Linked DNA regions of Homo sapiens: region 2 is linked to region 1. A link means that fine-mapping ties the variant in region 1 to the plasma level of a protein whose gene starts in the linked region. Region 1 holds a variant in brackets. A gene starts in the other region. All regions are shown on their reverse strands.

Region 1 (2,901 bases):
GCAACGGTGATGGGAATTTCCTGGGGAGTACTACACGGCTAGGATCAGGGAGACTGAGATCTAAAGGATGCTTCTGGAGAACAGGAATGCCATGATTAACTGGTGCTTTATGAAGATTCATCTGGCAGCACTGAGCATTCTGGACTAGCAAGAAGTGGGCTACAACCACTCCTCAAAACCATGAAAGCTGATACTTCAGTACAAGTGAGAGGCTATGAGGATCTAGAAGTAGAGAAGGACCGAGGTAGAAAGCAAAAGAGACTAGCCACTGGGGAAGACTCAAAGATGAATCAGCTTTGGGCCCAGATCTCTGGGATAAATAGTGGTGGTACCACCAAAAGATGTGAAGAACACAGGAGGGGGTTTTAGAGAAAGATGAACACGGCCGATTTTAGAAACTCTTGGTTTGAGATTATGATAAATGAACCAAGTACAGATACCCAGGAGATGGCTGGATATACAGAACTGACAAGATCTCAAGGGTACCTCGAACTAAAAATGTCCAGAACTAAATGCAGTTCTCTCTCCAAACTACATTATTCTCCAAAGTTCCCTATCTCAGTGGCTGGTTACGAAAGCTAGAAACCTAGAAGTCACCCCTGGCATCCCCTTCTCTGCTATCCTTAAGCCAGTCTCCTATGTCTACCTCTTAAATCAGTCTCAACTCTGCTAACCACTCCAATTCTACCAGCAACTTCTCTGGGCCACTGCCGTGGTTGCAGTGGTCTCAAAATCTACGATCATTCCCCCTAGAGTAGCCAGGGTGATCTTTTAGAAGAGCACATCTGATGTTATCATTCCTTGGCTCACACCACTTTGAAAGTGGTGTGAAAAGCTTCAAAAGCTTCTCATTGCTGAACTCTAAAAACCCAAATCCTGACCAGGCATGGTGGCTCACGCCTGTAATACCAGCACTTTGGGAGGCCGAGGTTGGTGGATCACCTGAGGTCAGTTCAAGACCAGCCTGGCCAACATGGTGAAACCCCGTCTCTACTAAAAATACAAAAATCAGCTGGGCGTGGTGGCAGGTGCCTGTAATCCCAGCTACTCGGGAGGCTGAGGCAAGAGAATTGCTTGAACACGGGAGGCGGAGGTTGCAGTGAGCCGAGATCACACCATTGCCCTCTAGCCGGGGGACAAGAGCGAGACTTCATCTCAAAAATAATAATAATAATCATCATCATCATCATCATCATCATCCTGGGGAAGGCAATGGGGAGATGTTGGTCAAAGGAGACAAAATTTCAGTTAATAGGAGGAGTAAGTTCCAGAGATCTACTGTACAACAAAGTGACTACAACTAACAACTATTGTGTACTAGAAAATTGCTGAGAGTAAATTCTAAATGTTCTGACCACACAAAATATGTATGTGAGGCCATGCTTATGTTAAGTAGCTTGATTGACTCATTCTACAATGTGTATG[T/C]ATTTCAAAACACGTTGCACACGATATATACAATTTTTGTCAATTAAAAAATAAATTAAAGGGCTGGGCATGGTGGCTTATGCCTGCAATCCCAGCACTTTGGGAGGCGGAGGCAGGCGGATCGCTTGAGCCAAGGAGTTTGAGACCAGCCTGGGCAACACAGCAAGACCCTATCTCTACAAAAAATACAAAAATTAGCTGGCCATGGTAGTGTGCAGCTATAGTCCTAGCTACTCAGGAAGTTGAGGTGGGAGGACTGCTTGAGCTCAGGAGGTCATGGCTGCAGTGAGCTATGATTGCACCACTGCACTCCAGCCTGGGCAACAGCGAGACCCTGTCTCAAATCAATCAATCCAATGAATAAATGAAAAAATAAAAACCCCAAATCCTGAACAGGGTGGGCAAGGCCGAGGACATCTGGCCACCATCTACCTCTCTCACCTCATCTCTTGCCATTCTCCCCCAACTCAGCCATACTGTCATTTTTCATGCTTCCTTTGGTCTCAGGTCCTCTCATATGCTGTTCTCTCAGCTTCTTCTCACCTCCCCAGCCCCTGACTCACATCTAGGGAACTTATATGTATTCTTCAGACCCCAGGTCAAGCATTTTCTCAGGACAATTTCCCAGGCTCCTCAAACTGTTGTGCCCCTGTACTACTCCCACGCAACACTGATCACAGCTTGTTATTATATATTGGCGTGACTATCAGAAGAATGTTTATCAATCCCATGAGAACTATAAGCTTCGTGAGGGAGAAACTGTTTGCGGTGCTCACCATCATATCCTAGCACCTGGCATAGTGCTTAACACATACTGGACTCTCAGATACTCAATGAATACAGAATGAAAGATTGGAACTGGAGCTAGAGAATTGGAAAGCAACTGACAATGGAGAAAAAAGAGGGTGAGGACAGAACTCTGGGGAAAATAATATTTAGGAGGTAGGAAAGAAAAAATGAGCCGCATAGAAGGCAAGAGGCAGAAATGAGAGGAGAGCCAGGAATGTATAGGGAAAAGGATAAAGGAAGGAGCAGTCAACAGAATCAATCCCTGCATAGAAATTTAAAAGTCAAGAACTCAACCAAGGCCACTGGAATTGAGCAGTAAAGTAGTTTCAATAGGGAACAGAAGCCAGACCACAAGAAGTAAGGAGTCAATAGTACGGAAGTGGAAGCAGCATGTGTGGACTAATTTTTAAAGAAGTTTGTGCAATAAGGGGAAGAAAGAGGATGATAGTATCAGTGGTAGCAGGAATACAAGAAGGTGTTTTCAAATAAAGATACTTGGGCAAGGCTGGGTGCAGTGGCTCGCGCCTGTAATCCCAGCACTTTGGGAGGCGGAGGTGGGCAGATTACTTGAGGTCAGGAGTCCGAGACCAGCCTGGCCAACATAATGAAACAATGTCTCTACTAAAAATACAAAAATTAACTGGCTGTGGTGGTACATGTCTGTAATCCCAGCTACTCGGGAAGCTG
Region 2 (2,901 bases), not on the chromosome of region 1:
GTGCACACCTATAGCCCCACCTGCTTGGGAGGCTGAGGTGGGAGAATTGCTTGAGCCTGGGAGGTGGAGGCTGCAGTGAACCAAGATCACCTCACTACACTCCAGCCTGGGCGACAGAGTGAGACTGTCTCAAAAAACAAACAAACAAAAAACAAAATCAAAATCCGCTGAGTGTGGTGGCTCACACCTCTAGTCCCAGCTACTTGGGAGTCTGAGGTGGGAGGATTGCTTGAGCTCAGGAGTTCGAGACCAGCCTGGGCAACACGGCAAGACAGTGTCTTTACCACCACCAAAAAAGTAATTAACTTCAAACTGTTTTTAAAAAAGAAAACGTATTTCCCATTAAAATTACTTCCATGATGACCAACAAAACACAACCAAACTCCAGATTTATAATGCAAAAATCCCCCAAACAAAATAGTCAAGGAAAAGTGTAAGTGAACAGAAACAGTGTGAATGCGTGTGCCTGGCCACAACAGTTGGCAAAGGCACAAGTGTCTGCAGGTGCGGAGGAGGCCGCAGTAGCTCGGGGTGGCTGAGGGCTAAGACGTGCTGTCAGCCATAGGGAAGGAATTCCAGGACACTGCCTGAAGAGTCAGGTCCTCCCACCCGGGAGCCTGTTTCCCACGCGTGCCAGCTACACTTTACAAAAGAAAAGAGAGACTTTGCACCAACCTAGCTGAGAGCAGCCACGCAGCAAAACGTGAGTCACTCAGTGCTCAATGCCTGGGGTCAAAAAATAGAGGAAAGAAGAAGGACTAAAAGCAAATTAGTTTATGTATCATTTGCAAAAGTTTTCAAAATGTGCTTTGCTCTCCATCTGTCATACTTCTGCAGGTGACAGACGAGTGAGGACATTTAGAGAAACTCAGGAACAAACCAGGCCCATCCACTGGCGTCGAGGCTAGTTTCGAAGACAGAAAAACGCCCCACTTCTGTTTGCACTGTGGCTGCCTGTGGCCCGGCCGGGGAGGCGGCCGGGAGTGAGGCCTGATCGTCCCTGGCGCCTCCACCTCCCCAGGCGCAGAAGGCGCCCACGAGGACCCCCAGTGCCCGACGTTGCCACGGTCTGGGATCAGAGGCAGGGACCAGGGAGCCAGGAACTGCGCCGCCCCCGCCCCTGCCCTGGCGCGAGGGAAGCTCCCCTCACCCGGGCCCAGCCCTGCAGGGGGGCGCGTGGGGTCAGACCGCAAAGCGAAGGTGCGGGCCGGGGTGGGCCTCGCGGAGACAAAGGCCGGGCCTGCCTGCTCTCAGAGGGCCCCAGCGCCTGCCAAGAGGAAGTCCTCGAGGCCCGGGCAGGGAAGGGGGCACGGGCTTCCCAGGGCCCGCCGGCCGCAGCAGGAAGTTGGCCAGGGCACGGCCGTGAGCGGAGCGGGCAGGGCTTTCTCAGGAGCGCGGGCGAGGCCGGCGCTGGAGGGGCGAGGACCGGGTATAAGAAGCCTCGTGGCCTTGCCCGGGCAGCCGCAGGTTCCCCGCGCGCCCCGAGCCCCCGCGCCATGAAGCTCGCCGCCCTCCTGGGGCTCTGCGTGGCCCTGTCCTGCAGCTCCGGTGAGCGCCCCGGGCTCCTGGCGCGCACGGTGGGGCCTGAGGCCTCGGCGCCCGCTGCGCCCCCGCCGCTGCCTGCGCCGATCGTGGATCCCAGGTCCTTCCAGCCTCGCCCGGCGCCCAGAGGGCTCCGCCACCCCGGGGCCCCGCGCCTGCAGCCCGCGGCCTCCCCCTCTCAGGGCTGTCTCCAGCCTCGTGCCGGGATGGAGGCCGCCCCTGGCCTGGGGACACCCGTCTGCCCCCCGTCTGGAGACCGGCTCCTCATCCTGCAAGGCGCAGCGCGAGTGTCCCCTCCCTTGGGGGCCTGTCCCGGACCCTGCACAGAGTTCACCGGTCCTTCCGCCACCCTCAGGCCACTCCGGTGACCCTGCAGCGTCTCCTGGCGGGGCCGCCTCCCCAGACCCGCCTGTGTCCCGGGGGCTCGCACCTGGCAGGCCTCGGCGCAGGAGGGAGGGGCGGTCGGGGAGCCGGGCAGGGCGCGACGGTTCCTGGGCGCCTCCCGCGGGGGCGCGTCCTGGACCTGCCTTCTGGGGACCCCGGCGCGCAGGCGGTGACCCCTCCCTGTTCGCTTGCAGCTGCTGCTTTCTTAGTGGGCTCGGCCAAGCCTGTGGCCCAGCCTGTCGCTGCGCTGGAGTCGGCGGCGGAGGCCGGGGCCGGGACCCTGGCCAACCCCCTCGGCACCCTCAACCCGCTGAAGCTCCTGCTGAGCAGCCTGGGCATCCCCGTGAACCACCTCATAGAGGGCTCCCAGAAGTGTGTGGCTGAGCTGGGTCCCCAGGCCGTGGGGGCCGTGAAGGCCCTGAAGGCCCTGCTGGTAAAGTGGGCACCCCGGGTGCCCTTCCTGCGCGGGCATCCCTTCCCGGCCAGCCTCAAAACTGCACCAGAGGTGTCCCGGCCCTACGTCAGGGCTGTTTCCCGTCCTGCCCCTCCAAGCCCTGTCCCTGGGAGAAGCCCGGGTCTCCGGGTGGGAACTGGGTGGGGCGCATCCGAGCTGCAGGGGCGGGGAAGGCGGAGATGGCCCCGCGCGGGTGCGCGTCCCCCGGAGACGCCAGCGGAACCGCCCCGCTCCCGCTCCCCACAGAGCCGGCCGCTGCCGCGCCCCCGCCTGAGTTCTTGGTGGCAGGGCTGGGGGCACTCAAGCTCGGCTTCTGCTTTCCAGGGGGCCCTGACAGTGTTTGGCTGAGCCGAGACTGGAGCATCTACACCTGAGGACAAGACGCTGCCCACCCGCGAGGGCTGAAAACCCCGCCGCGGGGAGGACCGTCCATCCCCTTCCCCCGGCCCCTCTCAATAAACGTGGTTAAGAGCAGCTCGAGCCTGGTATTTTCTCATCCAAATGCTGATCCCTGTGGGGGA

Direction of the effects. Positions count from the first base shown, and alleles are read on the strand shown. Strength reflects both the effect of a copy and how common the allele is.
For the plasma level of the protein whose gene starts at base 1,460 in region 2, C is the high allele of the variant in region 1 and T is the other (strong association).

Evidence for each region. PIP is the posterior inclusion probability: the model's chance that the variant is causal. Protein levels are from antibody-based Olink assays in UK Biobank. Linkage for the fine-mapping came from a reference panel and not from the study's own genotypes, which makes the PIPs less certain.
Region 2: SCGB3A1 starts here. The variant in region 1 is fine-mapped to the plasma level of the SCGB3A1 protein (UK Biobank, PIP above 0.99).

Annotation. Positions count from the first base shown.
Region 1 is chrX:150,607,104-150,610,004 of GRCh38, reverse strand. The region is part of intron 4 of MTM1 (myotubularin 1); the gene reads right to left. Among named protein-coding and RNA genes, the nearest start is that of MTM1, 40 kb to the right of the region's middle. The variant T/C (reference allele first, on the strand shown) is at 1,426.
Region 2 is chr5:180,590,058-180,592,958 of GRCh38, reverse strand. It overlaps SCGB3A1 (secretoglobin family 3A member 1), which reads left to right and starts at 1,460. Exons shown (of 3, transcript NM_052863.3): 1 at 1,460-1,548; 2 at 2,121-2,359; 3 at 2,705-2,854. The coding sequence starts at 1,497. The coding sequence ends at 2,728. RefSeq lists enhancers at 1,259-1,928, 1,929-2,598, 2,599-2,901.